Regions from separate parts of the Homo sapiens genome. Here regions 2, 3 and 4 are each linked to region 1. The links come from fine-mapping of genetic effects on gene expression. A gene starts in region 1. Each other region holds a variant in brackets. All regions are shown on one strand. Distances are from middle to middle.

Region 1 (8,240 bases):
CCTAACTCCTGAGCTCAAGTGATCCTCTCTCCTCAGCCCTCTTGAGTAGCTAGGACTGCAGGTGAGAGCCACCATGCCTGGTTTTTTTTTTTTTTTTCAGACGGGGTCTTGCTGTGTTGCCCAGGATGGTCTTGAACTCCTGGCCTCAAGTGATCCTCCAGCCTCAGCCTCCCAAAGTGCTGGGATTACAGGCATGAGCCACTGTGCCAAGCCTTACAGACTCTTATATTGGACAAGTTTCTTGAACTGAGTCTTAATTTTATCACCTGTAAAATAGAATTCTAACAACCCTGCAATGGAGGAATTAAGAACTGTGTATATAAACTCTTAACAAGCGGGTACTCACTAAATAGTAATTATTGTTATTGTTACTGATAGTAAATAAGACAAAGTATATCACTGTAGGTGGGTATTGGAGCTGGAATTACATGGAAACCTCATATTCTAGGGAGTGACACAAGTAGGAAAAGGCAACCCAAAGTTACTTTTACCTTGGTCCTTATTCCTTATCTCCTTGGGTTTACAGAGATCTGTCTACATAAAATGGCAAAGAGGTTTGCATTGTAGTTTCTGTAAAGGGAATAGCTATGTAAAAAGAAGTAGTGATTGAGCATTAGGAAGGAAAACCAACATTTACGGATTTCAATTAGTGTTGCATCATTCTTGCATTTAACTTATGCACTGACTTGCAAGCCTACCCCAGTGTAGATATAACATCCTGGCATTTATCTTGTGTGCACTGCCCTAGGTGTTACCATATATATATATATATGTTTTATATATATTTTTTTCTCACTTAATTCCCCCAAAGATTCTGAGACAGGTTTTTGTAAATCTTACCTCAGGAAGCTAAAGCATGGAGAAATTTACCCAGAGCTGGAGCTTGAGGCTATATATTTTTTTTTTTCTGAGGATAGGGAGAGATGATACTGTGTATGGTAAACTTATTAATATTTGTTAATTCAGCCAACATTTTGTGTATACTGTATGCAAGATGCTAATAGATATGCTGGAGAAAATTAAGACAGTGAATGGATTTGATGCCCTGTGAAGCATAAGAGGTTACTGTTATTTCTAATTACTACAAGAATTCTTGCTTCTTGGTGCATAAGATCTACTGTGGGGAATAGTACAAGTGCTGACCATCTGACTTTAGAGCTGAACAGTTTGGGACTTGATCTCAGCTTCCCTATTCACTGGTTACTGGGAGCTTGTTTTCCTATCTGTAAGATAGAGGCAATAAAACCTAGCTTATCATGCGAGACTATTGAATGCAAGGAGAGAATATTAAAATTCATCCCAGTAAGTCCACTGTAGTCCTAGGCAGCATGACAGAGGTCACAGATCTTACAAGTAACATATCAATGGCAAGTTGGGGATAAGGATTTGGTTTTTAGGGTTTTACTTTCTGTTTTTGATGACTCTTATTTTTGAGAAAATGTGGAAGGAGTAAGTAGAAGAACAGTTTTTTTCAGTGCAACATCAGGCAAAAGAAAAGCAGATTTTTTTCAGATGGTTAAAGCCTATGGCAAAATAGCTAACTTTCTCTTTAAGGTGATTGGTAACCTGGAAAGGACAGCTGGCGTGGGCAGAAAACTTGTTCAAGACAAACACTGTCCCAGCATTTTTTAAATTCCAGACATTACCCTGGGGCAAACACCTCAACTTTTTCTTTCATACCACCTTCCAATATCTTACTCCTGAGCCTAGGGTGCTCAAACCAAACTCTGCTTCTGATGTGTTGTCAGTTTTCTCTAAAATCACTTATCTTCTGTGGGACTGGAGTCAGGCTGATGTGGAAGGCTCCCGCAAACCCTATTTAGGCTCTCTGGAGACAGAATGGGTGGTTGGAAATGGAAGGGGGAATGAGGGAAATTTAACCCCATAGAATATCTTCCCCATGAGAGTAGCTTAGCACTACACGAAGAAAGCTAAAAACCACAGACTTCCAGGGCTTGTCTGATACGCAGGTTCCCTTGAGTGCTCTAATAGGTATTAGAAATAATATGATAGGGAAACAAGCTCTTGTAGGGGAGGAAGAATCTTTTTCTCTACCTATCTTAGGTTCTCCGGCTGGGTCCTTGTGCATTAGACTGGCCAAAGACAGATGAACAAAAGTAAAGCAAGTTTATCAACACGTGCGTTGTTCATATAGGTAACATGGGAATACTCAGAGATAAGCAACTCAAAGATTTGGTTAGAACTTGGGTTTATACAGCATATTAGCCAAGGAACAATAAATTTTTAAAGAAATGACAAGATAAAGGATCTTGAGTCTCTAGGGGCAGCAAATTGTCGGAAAACAAATATATGGGAGACTAGTTGCAGATGAAGGCCAAATACTAAGGTTTATCATGTAGATTTTTCTTGTGTTGTCTCCAGGCTGACAGGGGTCTAAAATTGTCTCTGGTGATTAATCTTTGTCTTTCCTGGTAGAGCAGGAAGGAGGTACACCTTCGTAAACTTATATCCTGCTTTTTGGCAAATAGAGGGAGGGCAGAGTGCTTTTCTAGTACCGTGTACCTATTTGCTTCTTCCTAATTGCCTTCAGCTCAAAATAATCCTTAAACCAAAGTGGCATACACTGCCAATGCTCTTGAGTAGATTGAAGGCTCCAAAGTAAAAAGTGCTGTACTGTAGTATTGGATCTCCAAGCATCAGCAGTGAGTCAGGTATTACAATGCTGTTTTCAGTGAGTGTGCCATCCGTCTATGAGGAGAAATGAGAGGAGCTAGAAAAATAAACTGACAGCTAGAAAAATACTCCACTGAATCAACAAATAGACATTTCTTGAAACAGTAACATGCTCAATGTGCAATTTTGAAAAAGTAAACTGAGCAAGGATCATGAAACATGATGGTGGTGAGAATTTATACTTCTCAGGTAGCCAGGGGAAGCTAGGTTTCCACAGATTCCTTTGTCTTTCAGTCCTTTTGAAAACGGAGAAAAAGCAAGAGAAGAGGGACGGCACCATCAGGTAGAGTGGATCTCAGCTAGAATGAGGGGAAGTGGCCCAGAATCCAACCTCCTCCAAAGAGCTGTGTGACAGGCAAGTCCTATCCTTTCTGCACCTCTTTCCTTAAATGTAAGTTGAAGCATTTGGACCAGACTGTTTCAATGATCTTCTAGATTGCTTTTGCCAAAACAGAACTCTCCATTCCTGTAAGATAAGTACACAATGGCTCTCAGAGATCTAAAAACTGGCCTTGGTTACCTGCAAACTTTGAGGCCCCAAGGCACAAAAATAATAGCTTTTTTTTTTTATTTTTTTTTTTAAGGTTCATGAAAGCTTCGGACACAAAAGCTTATATGGTCTTCGTCTCTATAAATAAACCAGGGAGTAAAGAAAAACCCCGCTAGTTTCAGTAAAGCGTTGCTATTAAGCAAAGCAAACCTATGCAAATATCAAGTTCTTAATGAGGAGTGTTTCCTAAGGGGCCTGTCCTCTGGTACCCCGCCTCTCCTCTGCCACAGTCATGTGAAGGCAGACAGGCACACACTCGCACACTAGCACGCACTTGGGAGCTCAGGGAACATAACACTGGTTAGTGAGTCGGTGTCCCTCTCCCATCGATTGCAACTTTTCCCCTCCTTCCCTCTCCTGCCTCTCCCCACTTTCTACATCTCCGTTCTCAGGAAGGCTCAGGGAGGATCCCCCGCTGCGTGCACTGCGTTCTGAGAGGCCGGGGAGAGACTCTGGGCCCGCGGTCGGGGCGGAGCCAAGGTCCCAACCCACATTGAACGGGCTTGAGGATTACTTGGAGGGCTCAGGATCTAGGAGGAGGGCCCAGGGCACTGGGTTGGGGTTACTCTGGGAAAGCTCTGTGGGACCAGGTGGGACCTTAGGGCTGGAGATGGACTCTGCGAGCTGGGGGCGGAGTTCTAGACTGGCAGGAGCGGAGTTCTGGGTGGCGGGGGCGGGGTCGGGACCAGCAGGGACGGCCTCTGAGAGTTGGGGGCGGAATTCTGGGCCGGTGAGGGCTGGGGCGGGACCAGCAGGGGAGGCCTCCGCGAGCTAGGGGAGGAGCTCTGCATTGTCTGGGGCGGGGCTTCGAGTAGCGGTAGCGAGGTCTGGAGCCGCAGGCGCTGCCTCCGCGAGGTAGGGGAGGAGCTCTGTACTGTCAGGGGCGGGGCTCTGAGTAGCGAGGCCGGGTCTGAACTATCAGGCGCGGCCTCTGCGAGCTGGGGGCGGGGTTCTGCACCGGCGGGGGCGGGGTTGTGAGTGGTGGGGGCGGGGTCTGGAGCAGCAGGCGCCGCGTTTGCGAGCTAAGGTCGGAGTTCTGCACCGGCGGGGGCGGGGCTCTGCGTGGCCGGGGCGGGCTCGGGATCCGCGGGGCGACTCCCGGTCTGGCTTGGGCAGGCTGCCCGGGCCGTGGCAGGAAGCCGGAAGCAGCCGCGGCCCCAGTTCGGGAGACATGGCGGGCGTTAAAGGTACATCGCGGTCCCCGGCTCGCTTGTCGTGTGGTGGGGTTGCCACCTCCGTTCCGGTCAAGCCTGGGGCTGCGCCTTCCGCGCGCCGTTGGGGAACGGCCTCACCACCCTTCCCGCCTCTCCGGTTCGGGAGGCGATCGACCGCTCCCTTCGTCCCTTGGGGTGTGGGTGGAGCGGCGTTTCGGGGGAGCCTTGGCCCTTTTTGCAAGGCCGCTGGCCTTCCTGCTCTCCAGTGGCGGCACCAGACCCCTCCCCAGCCTGAGCCCTCGGCGAGAGCGGCGCCCTCCACCTCTCCTGAGTTTTTAAACAAGGTTTCCACTTCTTGACGCCACCCTAACGCCTTTCTTCTGGTTTTCTGCCCCTCCGCAGTTTCCTATTTGCCACAAAGGACCCTTTGTCTCCAGCGTTCTTAGCATTGGGAAACTTAATCCTCTTTTTCCTAATGATTTTTCCAACTGGGCAGAGTTGACCGCGGGCGGGTGTCAATGGAAAGCACCCAGAAAGACGGTGTTTCTCGCAGTCGTGGAGAGTAGATTACGTGTAATTTTAATACTGCTTTCTTCGGTGTTTTCTCTGTTTATGGACAGAGAAGAAACCAGTGTGTGTGTAGTATGTGTTTTTTGCATGGGGCAGTTGGTAAAAACACCGCGTCCCTTATCTGTATGGCTTCAGAGCAATGCGAGACGGAAAAGGTTTTTTGCAAGGCTTCCTGTATTTTGGTAGGAAAACATTCCATTTCTAATCTGTCGAATAGAGTAGCATGACTTGTTTTTATATTGGCTTTTATATCATCCTTGAAATTTGCACCCAAAGATATCCCCAGTTAACATCTGCTATAAACATGTAGATAGTATATATACGAGTACGCCTCTGTTCACTATGAATTTATCCGAGTATGTGAGCTGTTAGCAGCAGACATTTTATCGTTATTTCTGGCTGACTTTTATACTTAATATCAGTTTAGTAAACATGGTTTACTTGGAGAGTGTCGACTGTGTTATATATCCATTTGAAGCCAATGCCGAAAACAGATGAAAAGTAGTGTCTCAGTACTACACATGATCAGAAACTACCAAATCATGATCACGTTTATGTGTGAATGTGTTAGAAAATTGTGATGTAGTGAAAAAAAAGGAAGTCTGAAATGGAAACGGACTAAGGGAAGGAAGCATTTTACAGATTGTTCAACTTTTATTGAGGAACTACTGTATGCCAGAGACTTAGGATACAAAGATAAATGAGAAGTTATTGGTGGGTGACAGAGCTGGAAATAATTATATTACTATGTCAGTGTTTATGTTGGGCTCAGATGCGGTGGGAGAACAGATGGTGGGTTGGATTTTGTCCTCCAAAAAGATGTGTTCAAGCTCTAATTCCCTGGTACCTGTGAATGTGATCTTATTTGGAAGTAGTATCTTTGCAGATATAATCAAATTAAAATGATAACTGGTTTAAGGTGGGCCCTAATCCAATGACTGGTGTCCTTATAAGAAGAGGGGAATTTAGACATAGAGACATACAGGGAGAATACCATGGGAAGACGGAGACAGAAATTGGAGTGATGCAGCTACAAAGTCAGGAGCACCAAAGATTGTTGGCAACCATGCTGGCAACCACTGAGTGTTAGGAAGAGGCAAGGAAGGGTGCTTCCCTACAGCCTTCAGAGGGAGTGTGGTGGCGCTGCTGACACCTTGATTTCAGAAGTCCAGCCTCCAGAACTGTCAGAAGATAAATTTCTGTTGTTCTCAGCCATCCAGTTTGTGGTACTTTGTAACGGCAGCCCTAGGAAGCTGATGCAGGTGGGATTGATTCCCCTGCTCCAGAGAAAGGACTGTTTTCACAGAAGAGGCGATGCTTGAACTGAATCTGAAGGGATCAATGTGGCTTCCCTTGGCAAGGCATGGAGTGAAGGTGGAGTATATCCCAAGTGGGGAGGACAGCACGTGACATGGCGCAGGGCTTATGAAACAACATGCCTTCTTCTCTTCAGGTACTTAAGCTACATTAGTAAGACCAGAACTTAGTGGTGAGGGTTGAAGCTGGCTGGACAGGCAGTTAGGAGTGAGTCAGGCGATGGTGAGCCTCCGTGCCAGAACAACTTGTAGGCTGTGGAAGCAACCGCAAAGGGATGGCAGCGGTGATATATATAGTTGAAAGATCACTGTCTGCTGTGTAGAGGATGGATTGGAAGAGTCACAGAGGCAGGAATAAGAGGTTAAGGGCCTGCACCAGGGCTGTAGCAGAGAGTTTAAGAAGTCTGGGAGATTGAGTCACCTTGACCTACTGATTCATTGGAAGGTGGAATGCAATCATGGTGTCAGTCCTCTAAGATAGGACCTTTAAAGTGTAGGGATAGTGGTTTGGTTTTACACGTGTTACACATGTTGAATTTGAGGTTCTTGTTGGCGGTCAAGGCAGAGAAGTCCAGACTGGAGGTGGAAGTACAGGCCTAGTTCTTTAGGACCTACTCTGGGCTGGAGCATCAGTTGCGGCCGGGCCCTTGTGGTAGTAGGAGCTTTGGGTTGAACATAAGTTTTCAGCAGGAGTGCGTGGAGTGAAAAGAGAGATGGGGTTGGATTTTTGGTCAACTCCAACTTTAAGAGATTCAGAGGATGTGATTCCTGAAAAAAGAGGAAAAAAAAGACCAAAAAGAATCAAACAGAAAGATGGTTGTGAACGTTGAGAAACTGGTATCAGAACAGAAGGAAGAGGTCTGCAGTACCTAGCTTTGACAGGCCTCATGGAGGAGGGGGTACTGCCGATGGTCAGGCACAGAGGAGAGGAGCAAAGCCTGCTGGGAAAAGATCATCTGAATGAAATAGTATGTGGTATTTGCTTTCCATCCACACATGGGCATTTTCCATTAAAGAGTGGAAATGTAAAAAGATATGTTAAAATTGACAGTGTTTCTTTGTCCCTTAACATGTGTATACTTTCAGATGTTTTTTAAAAAGCACTTTGGCACCTTCCTATTAAAGAGTCTCTCTAAATCTTCTCTCAAGTAAAAGGAAGCAATCAAAAATGTTCATTGGCTTAATTAATTAGTTTAATACTAATTATGAGTATTATGGACTTTTTTCAGAAGAAAATTTGGATAAGATAGTCTCCTATGCTTTTGATTTCTACCTTTATCAAAGAACATTGCTAAAATGAGTAGATACCTGAGTCAGTCAGCATTTATTTGGCTACCTCCTTTTGCCAAGCACTTTACATAGATTATCTCATTTAATTCCCATAAGCTCAATAAGGTGGCACCATTATTTCCATTTTACAGGTGAGAAATCAGGTTCAGAGGATTAGCTTCTACCCAAAGTCATAAGACCAGATGGTGGCAGAGTTAAGATTTGACTCATGTTTGTGACTCAGAGCTCAAGATTTTGTAACAACCTTGATACTCTGTTTCTCACTCAGCAGCACAACAAGGGCAAATACGTTCCTACTCCCGCAGAGACTAGTGTCCAATAGATACAGGGAATACATATTTTATTCAGTGCACACTAGTTGGGAATTGTTTCCTACAAAGACATGAAAACAATCTTCAAATACTTGCAGTACTGTGGTTTGGGGAGGCAAAATGATCAAAGGTATATATTACAGGGAGGCAGTTCTGGATATAATTTAAAGAAGGAGGGCTTTCAACATTTAGAAGCTGTTGGAATTAAATGACTTGCCTTGGGAGGTAGTGAGTTTTCCTTCACTGGAGTTATGTGGACCAACTGGCTGCCCTCTGGTGACAAATACAGAGGGAATTCATCCATTGGATAGGGGTTAGGTACTGGAATTACTTGAGACCTTTGTATACTTTATGA
Region 2 (8,240 bases), 53 kb after region 1:
TGAGATCATTCTGTGAGAGTAAATAACTGAGCTTGTACTTGAAAGTTGAGGACAATGTGGAGAACAAAGAGCTAAGAGCACAAGCAAAGGTCCAGAACTAGAACATCACAGGGTGTGTTTTGGAGACTGGATGATTTGAGTAAAGAATCATGAAGAGCAGAAGTAGTTATCAGGCTAGAAAGTTAGGCTGGAGCCAGATAAGGATGGGCCTGAGTATTTGGAATATATACTGTTGGCAACAGATGACTAAATACTCGGGTTCTCTTGAAGGAGTACAGGGCAGAAATCAGGAGATAGAATGAGAAATTTGACATTTACACCAGAACTTTCCAGCCACAAAGAGCAAGGTAGAGTCAATTAATGCACTGAGTCTAGTTAGAATGATTGGGTTAAGGTGAGAGTGGCCATTCCTAACACTTAGCAAAACAGTGTGTATGCATATGCCTGTGTGCAGTTATTTGATTATACATACACTTTCCAGCTGGGCTAGGCTGGCCTATCTGGGCCCAGTCAACTGCTGTGGACACTGAGCTTTAACACCAATAAGTGCGTGCCGTATTCATCCTCATTCTCATTTCTTTCTCAGTGCCTCTTGACCCTCCAAGGATTATTGCACTGATCCAGAACTGCTAAAATGGAGAAAGCCAGGCCTGACCTGTGCGCACAGCACACAGCATTGATATTTGATGTGAGATTAGGTCAGAGTCAGCCGGGAAGCCTTCTAAAGCGTGGCATACAGCCAACAAAATGAAAAGGCTTTATTCTGGGGGGAAATGTTTCCCTCTCTGCCTGGCTTGCTTTCCTTATCCTCCCTTAGACATCCTTTCCCCTAAATTCTAGTTCATTATTTTCATTTGAAACTCTCAAATTCCACTGGGCCACTAGCTGACCACATTCCTCCCTAAACAATAGCATTCTATTTTAAACACTTATTGTGCCAATGTTGACATTTTAATAGCCCAAGAGGGGCTGAAATAACTACTCCTACCTCACCACCATCACCAAGGAGATCAAGTATCATTTCTAGGATTTATGGTAAGCCCCTCACGGTGAAAGCACAAAAATCAGAGGCCAGGAAATTGGCAGCTACGTATTTTAAATAGGATTTCGGTAATCTTTGGCTGGTCTTTCCTAACAATGTTGAAGTTGATATTTTGTAACTTAACATTGGTTCTAGTTCTGCCTGGTGAGTAGCTCTAATCTCATTTTCATTATGTGAGAAAACACTTATTAATTAGTAGAAACTATTGGCAAACTTGATATAGTTGTGAATGAATAATGTAAATCCCTAGTGGGGCCCTTCCCAAACCCTTGCTCCCCTTCCTAAATAAGCAAACAGAGGGAAATTTCTGATTTTAGTGGGATGATGTACCACTGATTACCCAACATTGCTTATGACTTTACCATTAAGATTTATAATGAAAACTCTTTTATCTATATGTAACAGGAATTAAACTTTATGCAACAAGTTAAATAACAAACTTTCTCGATATCCAAATGAGTGCTTTCTTTATCCAAGTTCATCAGTGTAGGGGAAAGTCCTAACCTTATTTCAAAAATGTGCAAAATATTTTGTAATAACTAGGTAATTCTAAAAACATATAAGGAATTATCTGAAGTTAAGTGTGGTGAGTGAAGTGGATGATTGATAGTCATTTGGGAGCAGTAAAGTGGGTAAGAGTAAAAATTAATGAGACAGTCTTCTTCACGTGGTTCAAAAAACAGCTTCTGAAGGCAGTTTCCCTGGAAGAGCTCCAGAAGTGTTCTTGTATGTGGCAGTAAAGAAAGACAATACTCCTGATGACTGGTAACCAAGTAATGCTGGCTTAAACAGTTACTTATGTGATAATCAAACTTCCCTTGCTGATATAAAAGTTTTTATGTATTCTTGGTTTGATCACTCCTAATTTGTCTGCATGCAAGGAGAACCAGACTTAAGGTAGGATCCACTCATTTACTGACTGATTGCTTATTGAATGCCTTCTCTGTGCTGGACAGTAGGAGTAAGATGAGGAGCACTGTGGACTTTGTCCCTGCCCTCATACATTTATGATAAGGGGTTGTGGGGTCAGGGCATGGAAAAAACAAAAGGCAAATCTTTAAGACAAACTGATTGGAAACGACTGCTATTGGTTAAATACACCCACATGTTGAGATAATTTGTACTTTCCCAAAACATTATCTTGATAACATTATAGTCCCAGAAAGCGTTAGGGAATGTAGTAATGAAACTTTGGCAGGTCTTGTGCCTCTACAATGTTTGTGTTGCTCATGACCTTTGTACATGAATGCTTTTGCCCATGTGGCCAGTCAAAAAATGACCTGGTTGACCTGTTTTTCCAAAAGACCTTTGACCAAATCTTTGATGGACAAACAGAGAATCATGTTTTCAAGAAGGATCTACTTGCAAGCAAAGTTCTATAGTGTAGTCAGGGAAGGCTCTATGAAGTAATGAACTCTTCTGGCAAAGATCTGAAGGATGAGTAGAAAATAGTCTGGTCATGAGCTAGGGGAAGTGATTTACAGGCAGGAGTAACATGTGGAATACAGAATAATTTGACTTTAATAAATTTCAAATGGTAAAAATTTTCCAAAGTTCAAAATAGAAACATAACATCCCGTGATATTAGAAAATCTCATTACTTTACTTTAGTCTGGCCAGAAATGTGTCAAGAGGAAGACTTCAAAGAGGTAGATTTCATCTCTCTGGCCTGTAAACAAAATGCCCAAAACACTTCCCCAAGGCTTAAAGTCAGTTTGTAATTACTCTTTTCATCACCTCAGAAGAATTTCCAAACTTTAGTAACGTAGTAAAATTTTTTTTGGCCTTTGTGAATAAATACTATGAAATTTGGTTCAAAAGATAAAGCAAAGAGCAACTGAGGTCTTCAAAACATCATGTATCTAGAAGGTATTACCAAACATCCGTTTTTTTTAAAAAAGCATAAGGCATAAAATCAATTCACTAATGTCATGCTAGAGTGAGGTAGTAAAATGAGGCAACTCAGACCAGATGGTGTAATTCATAAACAGGGCTGTCATTTGGGAAAACGGGTGGAGTGGATGGAGAAATTAACTTGCAGTCTTTCCCCTTCCATTTCTTCCCAATCCAACTAACCTTATTCCTCTGGGTCATTTAGCTGTGGCTAAAACACACACACACACACACACACACACACACACACGTGTGTATATATATAATATATATATAATATACTTTTTACTTATAGCCATAGGTAAATGGTGAATGAAGTAGATGATTGACCTGTGTGCATAGCACACAGCATTGCTATTTGATGTTTGATGAAATATCAATGCTCTCAGAATAAATAATTAAATGAGTGTATATATATAGACACACACACACACACACACACACACACACACATATATTTCTTTTTTAAAAGAGTGTAATTGATGCCAAAGCCACTTTCTCTTCAGAGCTGCTTAACTACATGAAGAGTGTGCACCAACCTGGGGTTGCAAAGAGTTCTCTACCTTGTCCGGCTTCTGGAAAGGATGTGCGCTTTGCTCAATGGGGAATGGATAAGATGAGGATGTCCCACTGCTGGTTGGTTAGTACATTTTTGTAGATGAAGCAAAGCACATCTGTTCTTATACAGAATCTCATCTTTAAAAGGGACCTCAGATAGCATCTAATTCAAAAACTCATCTAATGCAGTGCAGTATTCCTCTAAGATACATACATAAATGCTGGCTAAATGCCCCCAGGGATGGAAGTTTACTGCCTCACAAGGCAGCCAATTATCTTTCTGACAGGTGCCATTCTTCCTAATACTGAGGTAAAGTCCATTGTTCTTTAGCTTCCACAAAAAGCAGTGATAATACTCTTGACGGCTTGCCCTGTGCCAGGGTCTGTGCCAAGGAGCTTCATATGCATTGTTTGTAACACTTGCAACATTAGTGGCAGGCAGGGATCATCCTGCACATTTTACAGGTGAGGGAACTGGCACAAGGTCACACAGCTAAGAGAGAAGGATCTAGTCTGGCTAAATCCAATGCCTAGGCCAATTTCTTGACACCATGCATAATTCCTGTTTCAAATTTCTATATGTGAAGGCACCTTTTAGACTCTTCTGTTTTCTCATTGATTTCTCATATGGCATGCCTTCCAATGCTTTCAGAATATGCTATGACAGTATCTCTATAAAAATATAAATCAATACAAAAGTTATTGACCCCTAGAAAATGACAATCACATACTTCAATTAAAATGAGTAGTACAAAGAGACTTCCTTGAATCTTTTAATAATGGCATTTATTTTTACATAATAACAGCAGCATATTGGTTAAGACATGGATTTAGGTAGATTTGACACCTGGTTTCAACATTCATTAGCTGTCAGATTCGGG[G/A]CATTTTATCTAACTTCTCAAATTATCAGTTTCTCACTTACAATGTGGGGATGATGATGATGCCTATGTTTTAGAATTGTGAGACTTGACATAGTACATATAAAGCACTTAGTATGATGCTGGCACTATCTTCAATAAATGGTATTATTATTTCTTTATTTGCAGCAAACCAAAACCCGTATGATTGTTGTCAAGTAAGACTTCCCCTACATCATGTTTGTAAATTAGAATGTTAGCTATAATTATAAGAAATTGAAAAATTCATGTTGTCTAATCAATATTACATTTTAGCCAGTAGTTTCAGCCAGGATCTTGGTTCTCTCATTAAATATACTGGTAATCTTTTTCAATTTTGTGTCACCTGCAATTGTTAAACATATTTTCAGTATCTTTATCCAAGTTGTTGCTAAAAGTGATTGAACAGGGAAATCAATGTTTGTTCCCATCTGTGGGTGCTGTTAACAGCTTCGTATGTGTGTTTTACAGTCACATATGTAATTTTCCCTGTGCTTTTCTGTCTATATCATACACTTGTTGTATCCCCTAGTGATCTCTGAAGTTTTAAGCTGTCTTTGACCTATGATTCTGTACATCTCCTGATATTGACATAGCTGAATCTATTAACTAACTTCTAAAATGGAAACCAGGACACCTGGGGCTCAGCACTAGCCTTTCCCCAGTGTACTTAAGCCCTCTGTGGCTCCATTTTTCATACTTTTAAAACTGAGCAAATATTTGCCCTCTCCTTCCTTTCAATGATATGGTGAAAATGAATTTAAAGCAATTATAAAAAGGACATGTGTTCTTATAATTGGTAGCATATCATTTACAGAGAAATTCCTCATCTGGTCACTATCTAAGTAGCTAAACAACTAAACATTAGCAAGAGAAGTCTTTGAGCAGTCAATGTAAATGACACCAAGTCTATGCATTTATCATGTGCTTTACTCATAGACTCATACTTATTCACAGTCCCATTACATACACACATCTAACAAGCTTGTTTATTTCATTTCCCAGTCCACAGCCAAATAGAGGAAGAAAGTGGATGGAGACTGCCCAAAGTGGGTAAATTGAAAGTAGCAAGAAAAGGCCAGGTGCGGTGGCTCATGCCTGTAATCCCAGCACTTTGGGAGGCCGAGGCGGGCAGATCACGAGGTCAGGAGTTTGAGACCAGCCTGACCAACATAGTGAAACCCTGTCTCTATTAAAAATACAAAAAATTAGACAGGCGTAGTGGCGTGCACCTGTAATCCCAGCTACTTGGGAGGCTGAGGCAGGAGAATTGCTTGAACCTGGGAGGTGGAGGTTGAACTGAGCCGAGATCGCACCATTGTACTCCAGTCTGGGCGACAGTGCGAGACTCCATCTCAAAAAAAAAAAAAAAAAAAAAAAGTAGCAAGAAAATAATCATTTTGAAAGGTGAAAAAAAAAAAGACAAGAGAATTATAAAAATTAGAAACTCAAAAAGTAAAGAAGCCTGAGACCACTAATTAAAGGGGAAAGATAGCCTTAAACATCAGTTTTCAAGAACATTACTGAATTACAAGTTAATACTATAATTGATGTTCAAAATGATTATTCATTATTGTGTTGGACTTCCGTGTTTTCACATGCTCAGCATTCATTCTGCTCTCCTCTGGAGGCAGCACTATGATTTTTCTTCAGAAAATTACCCTTCCCAATTTGTATTCTGTTCCAAAGGAACCATCATGTAAGGAGCTTTCCCATCTCCTGAACAAGGCTGAGCTTATGGTCCAAGACAAGTCAGTCACCTTTTTGCAGGAATTTGGATGTTGAGCAGAGCCAACACAAAGCTACTGGGCTGGCTCATCCTTATGGTGGTATCCTGAATTCTTCCCTTCCACGTAGAACCCTGGAGCTGCATGGTCCCTGACCTTTTCAAGACTGGTTGTCCAATTTTCTTTTAATTTGGAAGACTACTTTAAAACATTCTAATAAAATATGTTAGTCAAAGGTGGTCTTTGGCTGCTCACAGCTTGTGTTTCATAACTGACACAGATTCATTAAAGGGATCAATTTTGTTCTATATGCAGTGTTCAAAAAGCCACAGATATTTGTAATAAAAATTAAAAATAGGCCAGGCATGGTGGCTAACACCTGTAATCCCAGCACTTTGGGAGGCAGAGGCAGGAGGATCACTTGAGCCCACCATTACGAAACCAGCTTAGACAACATAGTGAAACCCCATCTGTACAAAAATACAAACATTTAGCTGGGCATGGTGGTGTGTGCCTGTAATCCCTGCTGCTCGGGAGGCTTGAGGTGGGAGGATTGCCTGAGCCCAGGAGGTTGAGTCTGCAGTGAGCCATGATCACGCCACTGCACTCCAGCCTGGGTGACAGAACGAGACCCTGTGTTAAAACAAACAAAACAAAAAACCCCCCAAATTAAAAATATTTCCATCCAACTTGGTTAAAATAGAATTGAAAACCTTTAGCATTAAAGGGATGTTTCCATTATAAATAAGTTACTAATTTCCTAACCATACTAGATGAATGAGTTGTTATTGCATACAAATCCAAAAATTATTACATTTTATTGTAGCTTGAATATATCTTGGTGAACTCATTTTCTTAGAGTGGCTCTGGTTAGCTCTTTATTAAAATGACAACTGATGTCACAGAAGCTGCCTGAGGACACATCTAAAATGAACATGCTTTTAGTGGTGGTTAAAATACTTTGAACAGTCAACAAATATTTACAGCTCTTTTTGTGTAACGTGCTGTACTAAGTGCTGGGATAAAGCAGTGAACGGGGTGGACATAGCCTCAGAACTCCCGGAGCTTGTGGTCCAATAGCTCAGTAAAGGTCTACTGAATGAAAGGGAGACTTCCCTTTGCTCACAATGAGGTCATTCCTCATGTTTTTGCCAATGTATTTTTCCTGCCTGGATAATCCACCCTCTGACCTTTATCCACATCCTTTACCCATTTCTTTTTCAAGGTCCAGATCAAACAGCAAGTTCTCCACTAAGCCTCTAACAATAATAACACTGATGGCAGCTAAACATTTATTGAGCCTGATGCTAACCTCTTTACATGGATTACATAACTCATTTCTCACAATGCACTATGAGATATTTACATATAATTCTTCAGTAACCCAATTGAGGGGAATTGCAGGGCAATTAAAAAATACGTATAACTTAAAATGTTGAACTCAGCATGCCCAGAACTACTAGAATCTTTTTGAGCATAGAACTTAAAATGTAAGGTGCGAAGAAAACAATTTTATATTTTACTGTGCCTCAGAATTGCTTGGTGGGGTCTTTTAAGAAATAAAGATGCCAGAGTACATTGTCAAAATTTCCAACTAATTAAAAACACACAAGCACACATATGCAGAACACAGTACAGAAAATTGCCGCAAATATCTTCTAAAGATAACCACAAATTGCACTTTATGTGTTTCCATTCAGTTTTTCTTCTTTTTTTGTAGCTATAATCTTTTAGACATAATTTTAGGATAGGTATCACCTTATCAGTGAGATCTTTCCTTACCCACCTCCATTCCCTGTCCTCATTACTGCTTAAGTTTTCTCCAAAGAATTTCTTACCTTCTATTTATTAATTACTTTTTAATTTACTTTGCTTCCTCAGAGTAACTTATCTCCCCACCTCCCCGTGGCCCCACTTCCACATACATACTAGAATGTCAGCTCCATAAGGGCAGAGATTTTTGTCTACTTTGCTCACTTCAGTATCTACAGTCGTTAACAGAGTGCCTGGCATGGAGAGGTAGCTTAGTATCTCTTTGTCCAATGATGGATACCTGAATGAATACAACTGTCAAAGTGCCCTTCAGAAATGCTGTACTATTTCCACTTCTACACGAAGGGTAAG
Region 3 (8,240 bases), 49 kb before region 1:
TTTAAGGACTGTGGAACATCCTACACAATATTTCATAGAAATTTTATTTGACCTTGAAAGATCTGTGATAATCTGGAGCATTTTCCCTCTGAAAGTAAATAAAGATATGATATCATTATAGAAGCATTTATACATATAAAGATGTCTCTTTGTATAATGTTTATAAAAGGCAATCTCTATAAAGATGTTTTTAATGAAAGGCATCTATCAGTGTAACTAAAGATTTTGTGACTGGACTTAAGGGTTTACCAAAGGAATCAGAGATTACATATTAAACACCTACCCTGGGCTGCTCTTACTTGCCCTAGAAGAGGAGGGAGCATTTTTTTTTTTTTTTTTTTGGATACCTAGAACAACAGTTCCTGACATAGATAATCAATGTTTTTAAAAAGCATGAATGTGCTGCACCCATTAACTCGTCATTTAGCATTAGGTATATCTCCTAATGCTATCCCTCCCCAAAAATAAAAAATAAAAATAAAAAAGCATGAATGTGGAAAGAATTGTTAAACACTATAGATATAAAATAAATATTTGGTTTTTGTTCTCAAGACACCTAAGCCTAGTTGGCGAGAGAACCCAGGACGTTCTAAAGATAAGTACAAATAATATTTATAATACCTGCCAAGGGAGATTAGTAAAGGGAGACACCAGTGACAGCTGGACCTTAGAGCAGGAGAAAGGCTTATATAGGTCAGAGGAGTGGAGTCATTTCTTGCCTATACAAATCATAAAATATCTTGTGAGGCTCTTGATGATCTAGCCTCTATCTGCTCCTCTAACTTCATCTTTTACCATTCTTCATTGCCCAAAAATCATATGCTCCAATAGGGATAGGCATGTGCTCATGTGCACACAGACACACACAATCTTCTTGCATGAGCTACTCCTTCTCCCTTAAAAGCTACCCATGTCACACACCCTTCGTCTCCTTCCTTCCTTCCTTCTTCCCTTCTCTTTCCTTTCTCCTTCCGTTTTCCTTCCCTTCTCCTTCCCTTCTCCTTCCTTCCTTCCTTCTTTCCTCTTCTTCCTCCTCTTCTTCTTCTTCTTCTTCTCCTCCTTCTCCTTCTTCTCCTTCTCCTCCTCCTCATTCTTCTTCTCCCTTCCTCCTTCCTTCCTCTCTCCCTTCCTCCCTTCCTCCTCCTCTTCCTCCTCCTTCTTCTTCCTCTTCTTCTTCTTCTTCTTCCCCCTCCCCTCCCCTCCCTTCTCTTCCCTCCCCTCCCCTTCCCTTCCCTTCCCTTCCAAAAGAGCCTCACTCAGTTGCCCAGGCTGGAGTACAGTGGCATGATCTTGGCTCACTGCAACCTTCGCCTCCTGGGTTCTGATTCTTGTACCTCAGTCACCCAAGTAGCTGGGATTACAGATGTGTGCCACTATGCCCAGCTAATTTTTGTATATTTAGTAGAGACGATTTTGCCATCTTGGCCAGGCTGGTCTTGAACTCCTGGCCTTAAGTGATCCACCTGCCTCAGCCTCCCAAAGTGCTGGGATTATAGGTGTGAGCCACCACCCCCAGCCCATCTTCTTCTTTATTTGCCTAATTTTGCTAAGGAGAAGATTTCCACATGCCACGAGGCTTTTCCAATTCTCTCTCCTAAAACACAGGATTGCACTACATCTTTAGCTCTTCCAGATAGTCCTAGAATTTGGCAGAATGCAAGTGGATCCTCTGACCTGTCTCCTTTACCCTTAGTTGCATCTTAGGGAGGCAGTCCCAAAGCCGTAGTATTTCCATCTTACCTTTGTTTTTGATTTGCCTACATCTCTTTTCAAACTCCTAGACCTTTCTTTCCCCAGCACTAACACTGTGAATGGATTTGCATCTCATTGTTGCATGACTTAGAAAAGTTTTCTTTGTTTTTACCTTTCAGTTCATGAGGACTAGAACCATTTCTTACTCCTTCCGGTTCTGTGGAGTGCTACGTCTGAAATTAAACCTTATTTTAATAAATGTTGATGGTAGAGTCTACCATAAATACTAAACATGGAACTGGTTTTATTTGTAGATTCATAAGGGTGTATAAGGTCTTAGGAATTTTTTATTTATAAACTCGTGGGAGTCTGGATCTGCCCACATCATATACCTCTGTGCCTTGAAACCTGAATTCAGTCATTTTACATGATGATTATGTGATTGTTTGTATATGTTCAAACCTGCATTTGAGGATGTAGGTAGTGATGTTGGCAAAGACAGGCTGTTTCCAGGAAGATTTTACTTTGCTGAGGGTTGTCATTCTGTATTTCGATTCACTTTTATGCTTAGAAGCCACATTGGTTGACAGGAATTGTATGAAATGATCAATACTGTTTTCCTGATTTTTCTATTATGTATTTGCATATGTCACAGAATGTTAAAATAGGACTTTGTTTAGTCTCAGTTTAGCAGAGGCTACAACTCAAAACAATGCATAGCACATAGCCCAGCATTCAAAAGCGAAGTACTGGAATACCTATTCAGGACTGCAAAGGATGTATGAAACCTCAGGTGTTTTTATTTTTTTTTAATGTTTTTTGACTCTTTATAGCCAATATCCACCTTGAGGAAATAAGAGTACTGATGCTGACAATGAAGTCCTGGAGACCAACAAGATGCATCAGTTAAACCAGATGTTCATAATGACTCCTCTGTGTATGTAGATCTATTGCTAGGCTTCAGAGAGCTTAACCATCTGTTTCTGCTCCTTTAAAAAAATTATTGTGGTAAAATATACATAACATAAACTTATTGTAACCATTTGTAGCATAAAATTTCAGTGGCATTAATTATATTCCCAATGTTGCATAACCAACACCGCTATCTATACTTAAACCTTTCTCATCATCCCCAACATAAACACTGTTCCCATCCACTCCATGCATATGTGTGTGTATGCGTGTATACACTGGTTTGGTTTCTGCATAGAAGGTTTATAGCTGTGCCCCAGAATATCAGGAACCTTTACACATTTCTTGGCATTACTGTTGGCAATAAATGGAAAGCTGGATGAATGTACACTAAGTCTAACCTGATTCCAGAGTTCTTAAGTTCTGATTAATGCTATTCTAGGGCCACTTTGTCTCTCCTTCTTCCACTGTTTACCCAGGAAGGACAGTATGGTGACAGAGTCCTTCTAGCAGCAAAGAAATCTGCAGCCCAGCTGGTTGTTTTAGGCTCTACCCTCTTAACTATTTCTAAATGACATAATCTTCTAGGATTTCTTTCCCTTTGGGAACAATTTGATTTTTGGAAAATGTATTATCAACTTGGGTGTCTTAAAGGACTCATGATTGAAGGTCAATGTTTTTACCCCTTTTTCTTCCTGAGCACACCAAAGAGGTCGCTACAGCTCCCAGTTGTTTCTGCATTGGTGGGAGGTTGGTGGGAGATTGGCTGGAGTGGGAGAAGTTTATAGCTCATATTTCATCTCTCACTCTGCTACCATGCCTCAGTGTCAGGACAAGAAATAACTGGAGTGAAAAAAACAATCCCTGGCCTGGGGGCCAGAGGACCAGAGACTCCCACATTCTAGTTATGAAGCCTTCCATGAATTGAATGTCTTAACCCTGGTAAAATACAGCCATCACTTGAAGCTGTAACCACTCTACAAATGCAAGGTGGAGTTATTGTTATCAGTCATCAGACAATGTAGTATAATGGAGAGTGCACAAATTTTATTTTTTTAAACTGAGATGAAGCCATATAGTGTATACAAACTTTAGACTTTAAAAATTACCCTAGGTTCACATCTCAGCTGTTCTTCTTCCTGGGCAAGTCACTTTTACCTCTCCTTGGACTCGTTTTTCTCCTGTGTAAAATGGATATGCCAATAAGAGAGTGCCTATCTCACAAGCACTCTTAGAATTTTTTTTATAGGTTTGTTGTAAGGAATAAATTTGATAGCAGTCTCTTGCTTAGAGTCATCATGCAGTAAGTAGTAGCTATGATTAACATTGGTAATAATAAAATGCTACAATAAGTGATTGACTGAATTATCCCCATCCTCCAAAAATGGTGTGTGATTCATAAAACACTAGATGTAGCAATTAAGTCATACTCTCTGTAGAAGCATTCATTCCTATGCTTAGTGAATGGCTGCTTCTGCCCATCCTGTCTTGGGCAAGGGATGATGGAGAGATGAAAATTGAATGGCATCCAGCTCTAGCGATGATTTGGCTTCTTTTTCCCACTGGGTGGTATCATGGCAGTGCTGTAATCTGTATGGTGTCCTCTGATGCTAAGCAAGCCCAGGAGATGTTCAAGGTGTTCAGGAAAACTGGCGACAGCATTGCGAAGTGTCAGCTACTGCATGAAGCTGTGAACCCCAGAGAGCTACAAAAATAGCTTGCAGTGATTGAATTCCTTTTTTATTTTGTTGGTTTTGTTTATGCCTTAGTGTTTTCCCCTTTTAGACAGAGCACATGCTTTTAAAAAATTCTAATTGTATGTTTACTTAATGGTGTATAATTATATATCAAGTAAATATATAATTATGGAGTACTTTAAATTAATATTATTTACTTGATTGAGTTAATGATTCTGGAGCTATTAGCCTATTGTGCTAAGAATAATTTAGCCAACTTTTAGCTGAGACTCATTACAGATATTGACATTTGG[GGT/G]GTGTGTGTGTGTGTGTGTGTGTGTGTGTGTGTGTGTGTGTCATAGCCAGTTTTTAAAACCTTCAAAAATATTGCTGGGGAAATAAATTTTCTATACTTTCATTCTGTTACAGTCTAAAAAAAACCCAATAAAATGGGTTCACCTGTTCCCTCCTCAAGATATGGTACATGTGGACAAATCTTATTATAAAAATAGATTGCCAAATGGGGTTCATTCCTTTATTCTTTCACTCATTCATTCACTCAGCAAATACCTGCTGAGCACCTACCATATGAGCAACACATGCACAGTGGACACTGGGGTTACAAAAATGAGTAAGTTATGGTCTCTCTTCTCATGGAGCTTGGTGTCTACAAGGGGAGACAGGTATAAGCAGTTTATTCAGTACAGCTTGACCGCAAGCTAGCATTTACTGTGTTTATGTTGTGCTACTTAATTCTGACAACAATCTTGTAATGCTCATTTATACTTTACACACTAGATAATTGAGGCCTGGAGAGGTTAGTAAATTGCCTAAGGTTAATCAAGTAGTAAATGGTAAATCCAGAGTGAAAATCCAGCCTGTGGATTTAACCATGTTGTTCTACTGAAAAAAGCTGTAATAGATGAAAATAAACTGGGGCATGAGTATAAAGATGACTAAGCGTTTCTGTCTGTGAGTATTAGAGAAACAGTCAGAGCCAAGAGAACACTTGAACATTTTTTTCTTTTTTAAAAATTTGAGTTAAAATATGCATATATAATGTACCATTTTTACCATTTTAAGTGTACAGTTTAATTACATTTATATTATTTTTTCCTCCTTCAAACCCTCTCCCACTCCTCTTCCTGGCCTCTGGTAACTACTAATCTACTCTTTATCTTCATGAGATCCACATTTTTAGTTTCTGCATATGAGTAAAAAACATGCAATATTTATCTTTCTATGCTTGGGTTATTTCAGTTATAATGGCCTCCAGTTCCATCCATGTTGCTGCAAATGACAGGATTTCATTCTTTTTTATGTGAATAATATTTCATTGTATATGTATACCACATTTTATTTATTCATTCATCCATTGGTAGGCACTTAGGTTGATTCCATATTTTGGCTATTGTGAATAGTGCTGCAATAAACATGGGAGTGCAGCTTTATATTCGATATATTGATTTCCTTTCTTTTGGATATATACCCAGTAGTGGAATTGCTGGGTCATATGGAACCTTCATACTGTCCTCTATGGTGATTGTACTAATTTACCTTCCCACCTACATTGTATAAGAGTTCCCTTTTCTCACATTTTCACCAGCATCTGGTATTACCTGCCTTTTTGATACAAACTATTTTAACTGAAGTGAGATGACACTATATTGTGATTTTGATTTGCATTTCTCTGATTAGTGATGTTGGACATTTTTTCATATAACTGTATGCCATTTCTATGTCTTCTTTGGAAGATCTGTTAATTCTCTTCAACTCTTTTGCCCAGTTTTTAATTTGTTTTTTTTTTTTATTGTTGAGTTGTTTGAGCTCCTTATATATTCTGGTTATTAATTTCTTGTCAAATGAATAGTTCACAAGTATTTCCTGCCATTCAGTGGGTTGTCTCTTCACTTCGTTGATTGTTTGCTTTGCTTTGCAGAAGCTGTTTAGCTTCATATAGTCCCAATTGTGTATTTTTGCTTTGGTTGTGTGTGCTTTTGAGGTCTTCCACAAGAAATTTTTGTCCAGATCAATGTCCTGGAACATTTCTCTAATGTTTTCTTCTAGTCATTTTATATTTTTGGGTTTTGGATTCAAGTTTTTAATCAATTTTATTTGATTTTTATATATAGTTAGAGATATAGGTCTATTTTCATTTTTCTGCATATAGTTACCCACTTTTCCCAGCACCATCTATGGAAAAGACTGTCCTCTCCCACTGTAAGTTCTTAGAATCTTTGTCAAAGATGAATTGGTGGTAAATGCGTGGACTTATATCTGGGTTCTCTATTTTGTTCCATTAGTCCATGTGCCTGTTTTTATGCCAGTACCATGCTGTTTTGGTTACGGTAGCTTTGTAAAAAACTTTGAAGTCAGATGATGTGATGCCTCTAACTTTGTTCTTTTTGCTCAGGGTGGCTTTGGCTATTTGGAGTCTTTTGTGGTTCCACATACATTTTAGGGGTTTTTTTTTATTTCTGTGAAGAATGTCATTGGCATTTTGATAGAGATTGCATTGAATCTGTACATTGCTTTGGGTAGTATTGCCATTTTAACAATATTATTTCTTCTAATCCATGAGCATGGAATACCTTTCCTTTTTTTGTGTCCTCTTCTATTTCTTTCATCAGAGTTTTACAGTTCTTCTTGTGTAGATCTTTCACTTCTTTGGTTAGATTGATTCCCAGGTATTTTATATTTTTTGTAGCTATTGGAAATGGCATTGGTTCCTTGATTTCTTTTTCAGATTGTTGGCTGTTAGTAAATATGAATGCTGTTGATTTATGCATGTTGGTTTTGTATTCTGCAACTTTACTGAATTCGTTTGTCAGTTCTAACAGTTTTTTTGGTGGAGTGTTTAGGTTTTTCTAGCCATAAGATCATGTTGAGTTCGAACAAGGGTAATTTGACTTCTTCCTTTCCAATTTAGATGTCCTTTATTTCTTTTTTTGCCTAATTGCTCTGGCCAGGACTTCCAGTATTATGTTGAATAATAGTGGCGAAAGTGGGTATCGTTGTTGTGTTCCATTCTTTAGAGGAAAGGCCTTCAATTTTCCTCCATTCAGTACGATGTTAGCCATGGATTTGTCATAGATGGCCATTATTATTTTGAGGTATGTTCCTTCTGTATCTATTTTCTGAGGATTTTTTTTTTTTTGAGACGGAGTTTTGCTGTCACCCAGGCTGGAGTGCAGTGATCTTGACTCACTGCAACCTCCGCCTCCTGGATTCAAGCAGTTCTCCTGCCTCAGCCTCCCAAGTAGCTGGGATTACAGGCACCTACCACTATGCCCGGTTAATTTTTGTATTTTTGGTAGAGACGGGGTTTCACCATGTTGGCCATGGCTGGTCTCAAACTCATGACCTCAAGTCATCTGCCTGTCTCAGCCTCCCAAAGTGCTGGGATTATAGGCGTGAGCTGCCGAGCCTGGCCTCATGAGGATTTTTATCATAAAGGGATGTTGAATTTTATCACATACTTTTTCAGCATCTATTGAAATAATCACGTATTTTTTGTTCTTGATTCTATTCATGTGGTATATAACATTTATTGATTTGCATATATTGAGCCATCCTTGTACCAATGAAGTAAAACTTTTTTTTTTTTTTTTGGAGACGGAGTCTCGCTCTGTCACCCAGGCTGGAGTGCAGTTGTGCGATCTCGGCTCACTGCAAGCTCCGCCTCATGGGTTCACGCCATTCTTCTGCGTCAGCCTCCCGAGTAACTCGGACTACAGGCACCTGCCACCACGCCCGGCTAATTTTTTTGTATTTTTAGTAGAGACGGGATTTCACTGTGTTAGCCAGGATGGTCTCGATTTCCTGACCTCGTGATCCGCCTGCCTCAGCCTCCTGAAGTGCTGGGATTACAGGCGTGAGCCACCATGCCTGGCCATGAAGTGAATCTTTGTTGATAATGGTGAATGATCTATTTAATGTGTTGTTGCATTTGTTTTGCAA
Region 4 (8,240 bases), 23 kb after region 1:
ATCCCAGCTACTCAGGAGGCTGAGGCAGGAGAATCACTTGAACCCAGGAATCACTTGAAGGCAGAGGTTGCAGTGAGCCGAGATCATGCCATTGCACTCCAGCCTGGGCAACAAGAGTGAAACTCCATCTCAAAAAAAAAAAAAAAAAAAAGCTGGGCGCAGTGGCGTGTGCCTGTAATCCCAGCTCCTAGCTACTCAGGAGGCTGAGGCAGGAGACTAACTTGAACCCGGAGGCGGAGGTTGCAGTGAGCCAAGATCGCACCACTGCACTCCAGCCTGGGCGAGGAAGAGAGATTCTGTCTCAAAAAAAAAAAAAAAAAAAAAAAAGAAAAAGAAAATTGACAGTAGTGAATGCTATGAAGAAATAAATCAGGATAAAGGCATAGAGAATGACTTACAGTGGTGCTATTTAAATAGGGTGGATAGAGACGATTGGTGGCTGAATAGAGCTATTGAATAATGAGAAGGAATCAACACGATGGGACCTATTTTTAGGTCTACTCTTTCGATTCTTTTTAATTTTAGGTCTACTCTTTCACTTATTCTTTCAAGAAATATTTGTTGAGCACCTATTATGTGCTCAACATAATTATATTATTCTAGGTGCTGGAGATAGAACAGTAAATAAAACAGACAAAACCCCCAGCCCCCATGGTGCTTACTTTTTTTTTTTTTGGTAGGGAAGCAAAAAATAAACTTCACAAATAAGTCAAATGGATGGTATGTTAGTGGAAATGCTAAGGCAAAAAAAGGAAGAAAGGGATGTAGAATATGTGTGAGTGTGCGTGTGGGCGTGAACGGGTGACGGTGGCTTCTGTTTAAGATACAGTGCCCAAGAAAGGCTTACCTAGAAGATGACGTTTGAAGGAAGTAGAGGCAGTTATGGAGGCGGCAATGGGCAAGATGGTTCAAAAAGAGGGATAAGCAAGTGCAGCGGCCCTGAGCTGGAGCGTACCTGTGAGCTGGCATGAAGCCTTCAGGGAGAGTGGAGGGAGATAAGATAATGTGTGTGTAGGGGTGGATGGATCCTATGGGGCCCAGCAGGTCATTGTAAGGCGTCGGCATTCATTTAGAGATGAGACGCCACTAGAGATATGAGCAGGAGTGGCCTGATTATGTTTTATTCGGATTGCTCTAGCTGTGTTTTAATTAAAACTATTTTATAAAGAGAGGAAAAAACAATTTTGCTTTTCCAAATCAATCATGTTTATGTCTTTGAAAGAGGAGAACAACAAATCACAGAAAACATAAATAAATGCATTTTGTTCAGGGACAGATGGCTGAAGCAACGAGAGTGAATCACAGAGTCACAGAATCACAGTTATGTGCAAAGCACTCAGGAAATAGCTTGGTCCCTAATTAATCATTCCATGTTGTTAAACTCTGTGGAGATAAATTTAGCCAGCAGTAGGTAGAATGAGATGAATTCTCATGAAAACATGTTTTCAATGAAGTTGGCAAAGAATGCTGTGTAAACCCCAAATAGCTGAAACTATGTCCTAATAGCATTGAGCTTGGTGTGCCACATCCTTAGCAATAACCACTTGAGTGTCTGTCCCTGGGGCCTGCAGATGAGGATGTTAACATCTGATTTAGCAGAAGGGGTGGGGAGAGTGATGGGGGACAAGGGAGAGAGTCCTGAAACATACAGGTGGTGACCCTAGGAGCTGACTTTGGTGCCATTTAGGCATATTTGCTTTCAGGACTCACACTTCCTTAGGTTTAAGCTATCAATAAAAGGAAAGTGGTTTCTAAGTCCTAGCCTTTGGACTGTATTCCTTTAATTCATATAGTGGAGCAGGGGGAAAGTTATCATTTTAATGGCTGGTAGCACAATTCCGAGAAGAAAACTTTTTTGTTTATTTAATCTTAGATAAGCCATTTGAGTGTTAAGAGCTATGGCCCACGACAGGGAAGGGATTTGAAATGTTTTAGATAATAAAGTGAGGAGAATTTGGGATTTGCATCAGAATGACGAAGGGGAAGTGGGGGAGGGGTGATACACTAACACCAGTGGAGAAGAAATCCAGGGAAAAGGTGACAGAAATCCTGGCCACTGAAGGGCTGGAGCCTGAGGCTAAAACAGTGCCAGGGAGACCCTCTGGGGTGACAGCCTAAGAATTTTTGATAACAAGGATATTGGCAGAGCAGTGGTGAAACCCTCTCCCCTTTTCCCATTGCTTCTCCCTCCTTTGCCCCAGATTCCCACTCAAAGCCTGTGATACATACTGTTGTTCACTGTGGTGTTCAGGTATACTGAGGGGTAGGAGAGTGAAGAAAAGGAGAATGGTTTGCAAGTGGGGTTAATGTGGGCTGAGAGAGAAGAGGACAGCAAAGAGGCGTGAGACACAGGGTAAAGAAAGCATTCAGAGTAAAATGGACCAAGAGGTGAGTAGGAGAATAAGTTACCCCAAATGCCTCAGAAATATTTGTTGGGAGGACTCTGCTATATGAGACTTAAGCCCTTTTTAAAAAAATAAAATAAAATGAAAAGGTGATTCCCAAAAGGTTGGTGCCTTATGAGGCTTCATCTGCATAGGATCCCTGGTTTCACAACTCCTTATCTTGACCAGACTTTCTATTGATTCCAGGTCTTTAGACAATAACTTAATTCTTTCAACCAACTGTCAATCAGAAAATCTTTGAATCCACCTATGACCTATGACCCCTCCCCTACTCCACCCCACTGATTTGAGTTTGTCCTGCCTTTTCCAACTAAACTAGTATATATCCCACATGTATTGATTAATATCTTTTGTCTCCCTAAATGTATAAAAACCAAGCTATAACCCAACCACCTTGGGCACATGTTCTCAGGATCTCTTGAGACTGTACCTTGGGCCTTGGTCATTTATATTTGACTCAGAATAAACCTCTTTAAATATTTTACAGAGTCTGACTCTTTTCATCAACAGCTGGAATATTTGTTTCTTGATCTAATGATGATTACACAGCAGTTTTAAGTTTGTGCAAGTTTATTTGGTTTTATACTTACAATATATACACTCAATAAAATATGATATACCTCAATAAAAATAAAGCAATGCCTTCCCTGCCTCCAAAAACAAAACCAACCTGGGAATACAAAGATCAAATAACAGTGCCTGCAGAAGCTTAGAAAATCGGCACAGATGTGACATTTGACTCAGTTCAGCACACATTATGGAGGGTTACTATACAAGGGAGACTGCACACAGAGACCATACTCAGGAGCCTGAGGATCCTGAATCACTGACCTAGAGGGAAGAAGTACCAGCCCCTATCTTGAGGACCTCATATTACAAGGCAGTAATAGACATGCAAAAATTAATAGCAACAGTCTGATTCTGGCAATTGGCTGATATGCCAACTCTTACCACTTTTCAACATTGTGCTAGATATGTAAGTGGCAGAAAGACTGAAAAGGAATAAACAGATTATTATTTGCATTCTATGCTCTTATTTACTTAGAAAATCCAGGAGAATCTATACACTATTAGAAAAAAATTACACTTATAAAACTTACTAGATAAAAGATCAGTATCAAAAAAATCAATTGCTTTCCTAAACACCAGTACTAACTAATTAGAAAATGCACTGGGCACAGTGGCTTAAGCCAATAATCCCAGCATTTTGGGAGGCTGAGGTGGGAGGATCACTTGAGCCCAGGAGTTCGAGACCTGCCTGAGCAACATAGCAAGACCCTGTCTCTGAAAATGCAATTTTCCAAATTTTCAATAGGAACAATTACATAAATGATTATAATATATATATATAATTTTATATATACACATCTATATCTGATGTTATAAAGATGTGCAATACTTGGAGAAAAATTTCAAAAATTTTTTGCTGGGTATATAAGCTCTAAATATATAAAAAGATATACTATATTTAAATACTAAGGGATAAAGTATTAAGCATTCAATGAATACTGGAAAAATGATTGGATGAGTTCATATTGGACAGAGCCACATCTCGGTCTTCTTTTGGAATCCTTTCTTCATATAGTACCTAGAATAGTGCCTGACACTGTGGGAAACCAAAATATGTCACCTCAAAATATACTTCTTTGGCGTATTTTCAGTTGGTTATTCAGAGAAGTAGCAGACAGGAATAGTTCTGAAAAGCTGTTCTTTTGGGGGTAGATTTGCATCTGTAGAGGAAATCTGCATTGGTGAGGTAAAGAACAGACACAGAGGCTTTCTCTGAGGTCCACCTATCTGGATCAGGAAAAAGGAACTCA[A/G]TAAGAAAAGGAGACTAAAGACCTGATACTTTTTTTTTTTTTTTTTTTTTATACTCTAAGTTTTAGGGTACATGTGCACATTGTGCAGGTTAGTTACATATGTATACATGTGCCATGCTGGTGCGCTGCACCCACTAATGTGTCATCTAGCATTAGGTATATCTCCCAATGCTATCCCTCCCCCCTCCCCCGACCCCACCACAGTCCCCAGAGTGTGATATTCCCCTTCCTGTGTCCATGTGATCTCATTGTTCAATTCCCACCTATGAGTGAGAATATGCGGTGTTAAGACCTGATACTTTTAAAGTTTGGACAGTGAAACTTTTGCTGCATCTCTTCCTTCTGAGGGCTGCTCCCAGAGAGACTTCATCTGCATCACAAGACAGCCTTTGCTCACCATGCCTTTCCTCCCCACACCCTCTCATAATGTGTTGCTACCTCCCTGCAGGAGCCTTTAGGACCCTATTTCTTTCTGTAGCTTAAAATGCTATTGAAGCTTCAACTATCTGGCCCTTCTTTGATTCTTCGAGTCTCGTAGTTTGTGTGGCTCCTGTGCACATGTGCATGTGATAAATGTGTATACTTTGTCTCCCATGAATCTGGCTATTGTCAGTTTCTTTTATAGACTCAGATTAACAAACTTTCAGAAGGGTGGAGGCGGGCGGGGGGTGGGGTGGGGAGGGAAATCCCTTTGCTCCTACAGCAAAGTAGTAGGGACTCAAAAAATATCGAAGAGAAGAAAACAAAGGAGAGGAAAGGAGGAAGGGATGAATAACTTTATTTAAATGAGAAAAGTGGCACTGAGTTAAAAATTATTAAATATTTTGAATTCTTTATGTTATTACAATTTTTACTTTTGCTAACATCCTCTTGCTTTATTGTTGTAATAATGTGTGCTCATATAGTCATTAAGAGTTTACAAAACTGTGTCAATTAGGTCCATATAACAATGAAAAAGCAGCAGCATCACTGGAAAATCTCGAGGCTCTTCAAGGTTAAGGGGCTTGCCTTAGATGACAAATAACCTGACTGTTACTCAGACCCAAGTTTTTTGACTTCAAGGGCAGCGACTTTGTACTCTACAGATGCCAATCTAAATGGGCTGCAAGCTAGATGTGTAGGCTATGGATTGCCATCCTAATTGGGACACTTTTGAGAGCAGAAGTAGGTGTTATCCATTATGTTGGGACAATAGGTGTAAATTGGTACCATCTTGGGTACATCCAAGGTACAGTTTACCTTATCTATGGCTGAAAACTGAGTTTAAATTAATTCTTCTTACGGGCAGCACAAGTCAAAAAGCCCTTTGCCAAGCTGCACAGATTGTAAATGCTGCTCCTGGCTGTGTTCAATGTATATTTGGACAAAGTCAATAATAAATAAATAAAGGTCAACTATGAATTAAGGTAGGTTTGTTAGTTTGTTTTTTGGTAAAAGGAATGTCACTTGCTTAGAGAGGTTAATATACTGCATGTGGGGCAAAGTTGCTGGTAAGTATCATTCTTCCTTCTGTCCTTCGAACCCCAAATGACACATCTTGTTCACGTATCCACTATGGTGTAAGACATCACTGGGTGCTGGCTGTAATTTTATCTTCCTTCTTAAAGTCTTTATAACGTGAAGATAATGAGTGGATCTGTGCGAAACTCACTACCAGGATCAGCCAATACTTGTTTTTCTGTGGAGCTTTTGGTGATTACTTTAACTGAATAGAGTTTTTTTTTTTTAAACAGCAAATCTTTCAATGTATTAGCAATTTTAAGTAAGAATCTCTAACTTGTAACACACACTGAACTTAGAGTTTTGTTTTTTTTCTACACATGCCATTTCTGCAAGTGAACTTAAGAAATTTCAACTAATATAGAAGACTTAATCAATTCTCAATTACATGTTGTAAATTAACCTGCTAACAGGAACAGGTGAAACTCTCTTAACATTTTAAGGACATAAAGTAATCAAATATGCAGATTTAACACAAAACCATTAATATTATGGGGTTCTTTTCAATATTTCTATGCTTAATTTTAAATCTTTTTTAGGATAAAATTGTTTTCCAACTAAGAAAAGTATTGTCATCCTATTTTGTGAGATACCACTAAGTCAAATGAGATTGCGTAATGACCAGAGATATTATTAGTTGAGGTGCTGACTGTATTTTTATCTGATATACCAATGAGTCTTTTCACTTGGGTAAATATGTAGGAGCTGGATTTCTGAGTTGAATGGTAAGTCTGTTTTTAACTTTGTACTAAACTGGGATTTTGTTTTCCAAAGTGGCTGTACAATTTTGCATTCCAACCAACAATGTATGAGAGTCCTAGTTCTGCATGCTCATCAGTAAATAGAATTGTCAGTTGTTAAATTTTAGCCATTCTAATAGTTCCTACCCTTTTTTAGACCATATAGGGTAATGACATTGCCATGGCATCTGTAAACTGTCATGGCGCTAGTGGGAGTGTCTTTTGGTATGCTAATACATTATAATTAGTGTATAATGAGCAATGATATCGAACAGAGGTCACTTTCATTGCCATGTGGGTTTGGGTGGGTTTTGGCCAGCTTCTTTACTGCAACCTGTTTTATCAGCGAGGTCCCTTCTGACTAATGATGTTAAGAATCTTTTAATGTACTTATTTATAATCTTTCTATCTTCAGTAAAATGTCTATAGAAATTATTGGTCCATTTCTTTATTGAGTTGTGTGATTTCTTAATACTGAGTTTTGAAAGATCTTTATATATTCTGAACTCAAGGCTTTATTGTATATCTCATTTGCAAATATTTATCCAGTGCATGGCTGGTCTTTTAATTTTCTTTTTCTTTTTTCTTTTTCCTAACTGCTAGATGATGTGGGAGTCTTTTCAAATCCTTAGCATCTTTGGAAGAGCAGAAGTTTAAATTTTTGATAAAATCTAATTTATCTTTTTTGAGACAGGGTCTCACTCTGTCACTCAGGCTGGAGTGCAGTGGCACAATCATGGCTCACTGCAGCCTCAACCTTCAGGGCTCAGGTGATCCTCTCACCTCAGCCTCCTGAGTAGCTGGGACTACAGGTGCCCACCACCATGCCTGGCTAATTTTTGTATTGTGTGTAGAGACAGGATTTCGCCATGTTGCCCAGGCTGGTCTCAAACTCCTGGGCTCATGTGATCCACCTGCCTCAGCCTCCCAAAGTGCTAGGATTAAATTTATCATCTTTTTTTTTTCTTGGATGGATCATAGTTTTGGCATCTTCTTAGAAATCTTTGCCTAATGTCGTGATGATTTTCTCCTATGTTTTCTTCAAAGTTTTATAGTTTAAAATTTTAGATTTAGGTCTGTAATACATTTGAGTTAATTTTTTGTAAAGGGTATGAGTGATCAATCAAGGCCCTCCCTCCTTCCTTTCCTTCCTTCCTTGTATATTGAAATCCAATTATTCCAGCACCATCTGTTGAGTCTTCCTATTCATGAACAGGGACTGTCTCTCCATTTATTTAGTTTCTATTTGATTTCTTTCATTAGAGTTCTATAGTTTTCCTCATATAGATCTTGTACATAATTTGTTGGATTTATACCGAAGTAGTTTGGTTTTGGGGGTGCTGGTATAAATGGTATTGTGATTTTTCTTTTCTTTTTTTTTTTTTTTGATACAGGGTCTCACCCTCTCACCCAGGCTGGAGTGCAATGGTGCAATCTTGGCTCACTTGTAACTTTGGCCTCCTGGGCTCAGGTGATCTTCCCACCTCAGCCCCTTGAGTACCTGGGACTACAGGTGTGCACCACCATACCTGGCTAATTTTTTTGTATTTTTGTTTTGCAGATATGGGTTTTTGCCATGTTGCCCAGACTGGTCTCAAGCTCCTGGGCCCCAAGTGATTTCATTCACCTCAGCCTCCTAAAGTGCTGTATTGTGTTTTTAATTTCAAATTCCACTTGTTCATTGCTCATACATAGGAAAGTGATTGACTTTTGTATATTAATCTTGCTCTAGTTACTTATTAGTTCCAGGAGTCTGTTGTTTATTCTTTTGGATT

Alleles and levels. Positions count from the first base shown, and alleles are read on the strand shown. Sizes are in standard deviations (SD) of each study's normalised expression. Not every link is listed here.
As copies of G replace A in region 4, the expression in subcutaneous fat of the gene that starts at base 4,359 in region 1 goes down (small effect, 0.21 SD a copy in GTEx).

The links. PIP is the estimated chance that this variant, and not a neighbour inherited with it, causes the effect. A credible set is the group of variants that fine-mapping cannot tell apart.
Region 2: its variant is the best candidate, but not a certain one, in a credible set for the expression of LEPROT in blood mononuclear cells (TOPMed, PIP 0.68).
Region 3: its variant is the best candidate, but not a certain one, in a credible set for the expression of LEPROT in monocytes (Fairfax 2014, PIP 0.88).
Region 4: its variant is the best candidate, but not a certain one, in a credible set for the expression of LEPROT in subcutaneous fat (GTEx, PIP 0.77).

The regions. Positions count from the first base shown.
Region 1 is chr1:65,416,310-65,424,549 of GRCh38, forward strand. It overlaps LEPROT (leptin receptor overlapping transcript), which reads left to right and starts at 4,359. Exons shown (of 4, transcript NM_017526.5): 1 at 4,359-4,431. The coding sequence starts at 4,416. It overlaps LEPR (leptin receptor), which reads left to right and starts at 4,359. Exons shown (of 20, transcript NM_002303.6): 1 at 4,359-4,431. RefSeq lists enhancers at 3,673-4,205, 4,206-4,739, 4,813-4,862 and silencers at 3,853-3,922, 3,943-4,442.
Region 2 is chr1:65,469,261-65,477,500 of GRCh38, forward strand. The region is part of intron 2 of LEPR (leptin receptor); the gene reads left to right. Among named protein-coding and RNA genes, the nearest start is that of LEPROT, 53 kb to the left of the region's middle. The variant G/A (reference allele first, on the strand shown) is at 4,375.
Region 3 is chr1:65,367,552-65,375,791 of GRCh38, forward strand. All of the region lies in intron 4 of DNAJC6 (DnaJ heat shock protein family (Hsp40) member C6), which reads left to right. Among named protein-coding and RNA genes, the nearest start is that of LEPR, 49 kb to the right of the region's middle. The variant GGT/G (reference allele first, on the strand shown) is at 4,595.
Region 4 is chr1:65,439,698-65,447,937 of GRCh38, forward strand. All of the region lies in intron 2 of LEPR (leptin receptor), which reads left to right. Among named protein-coding and RNA genes, the nearest start is that of LEPROT, 23 kb to the left of the region's middle. RefSeq lists a silencer at 829-1,123. The variant A/G (reference allele first, on the strand shown) is at 4,226.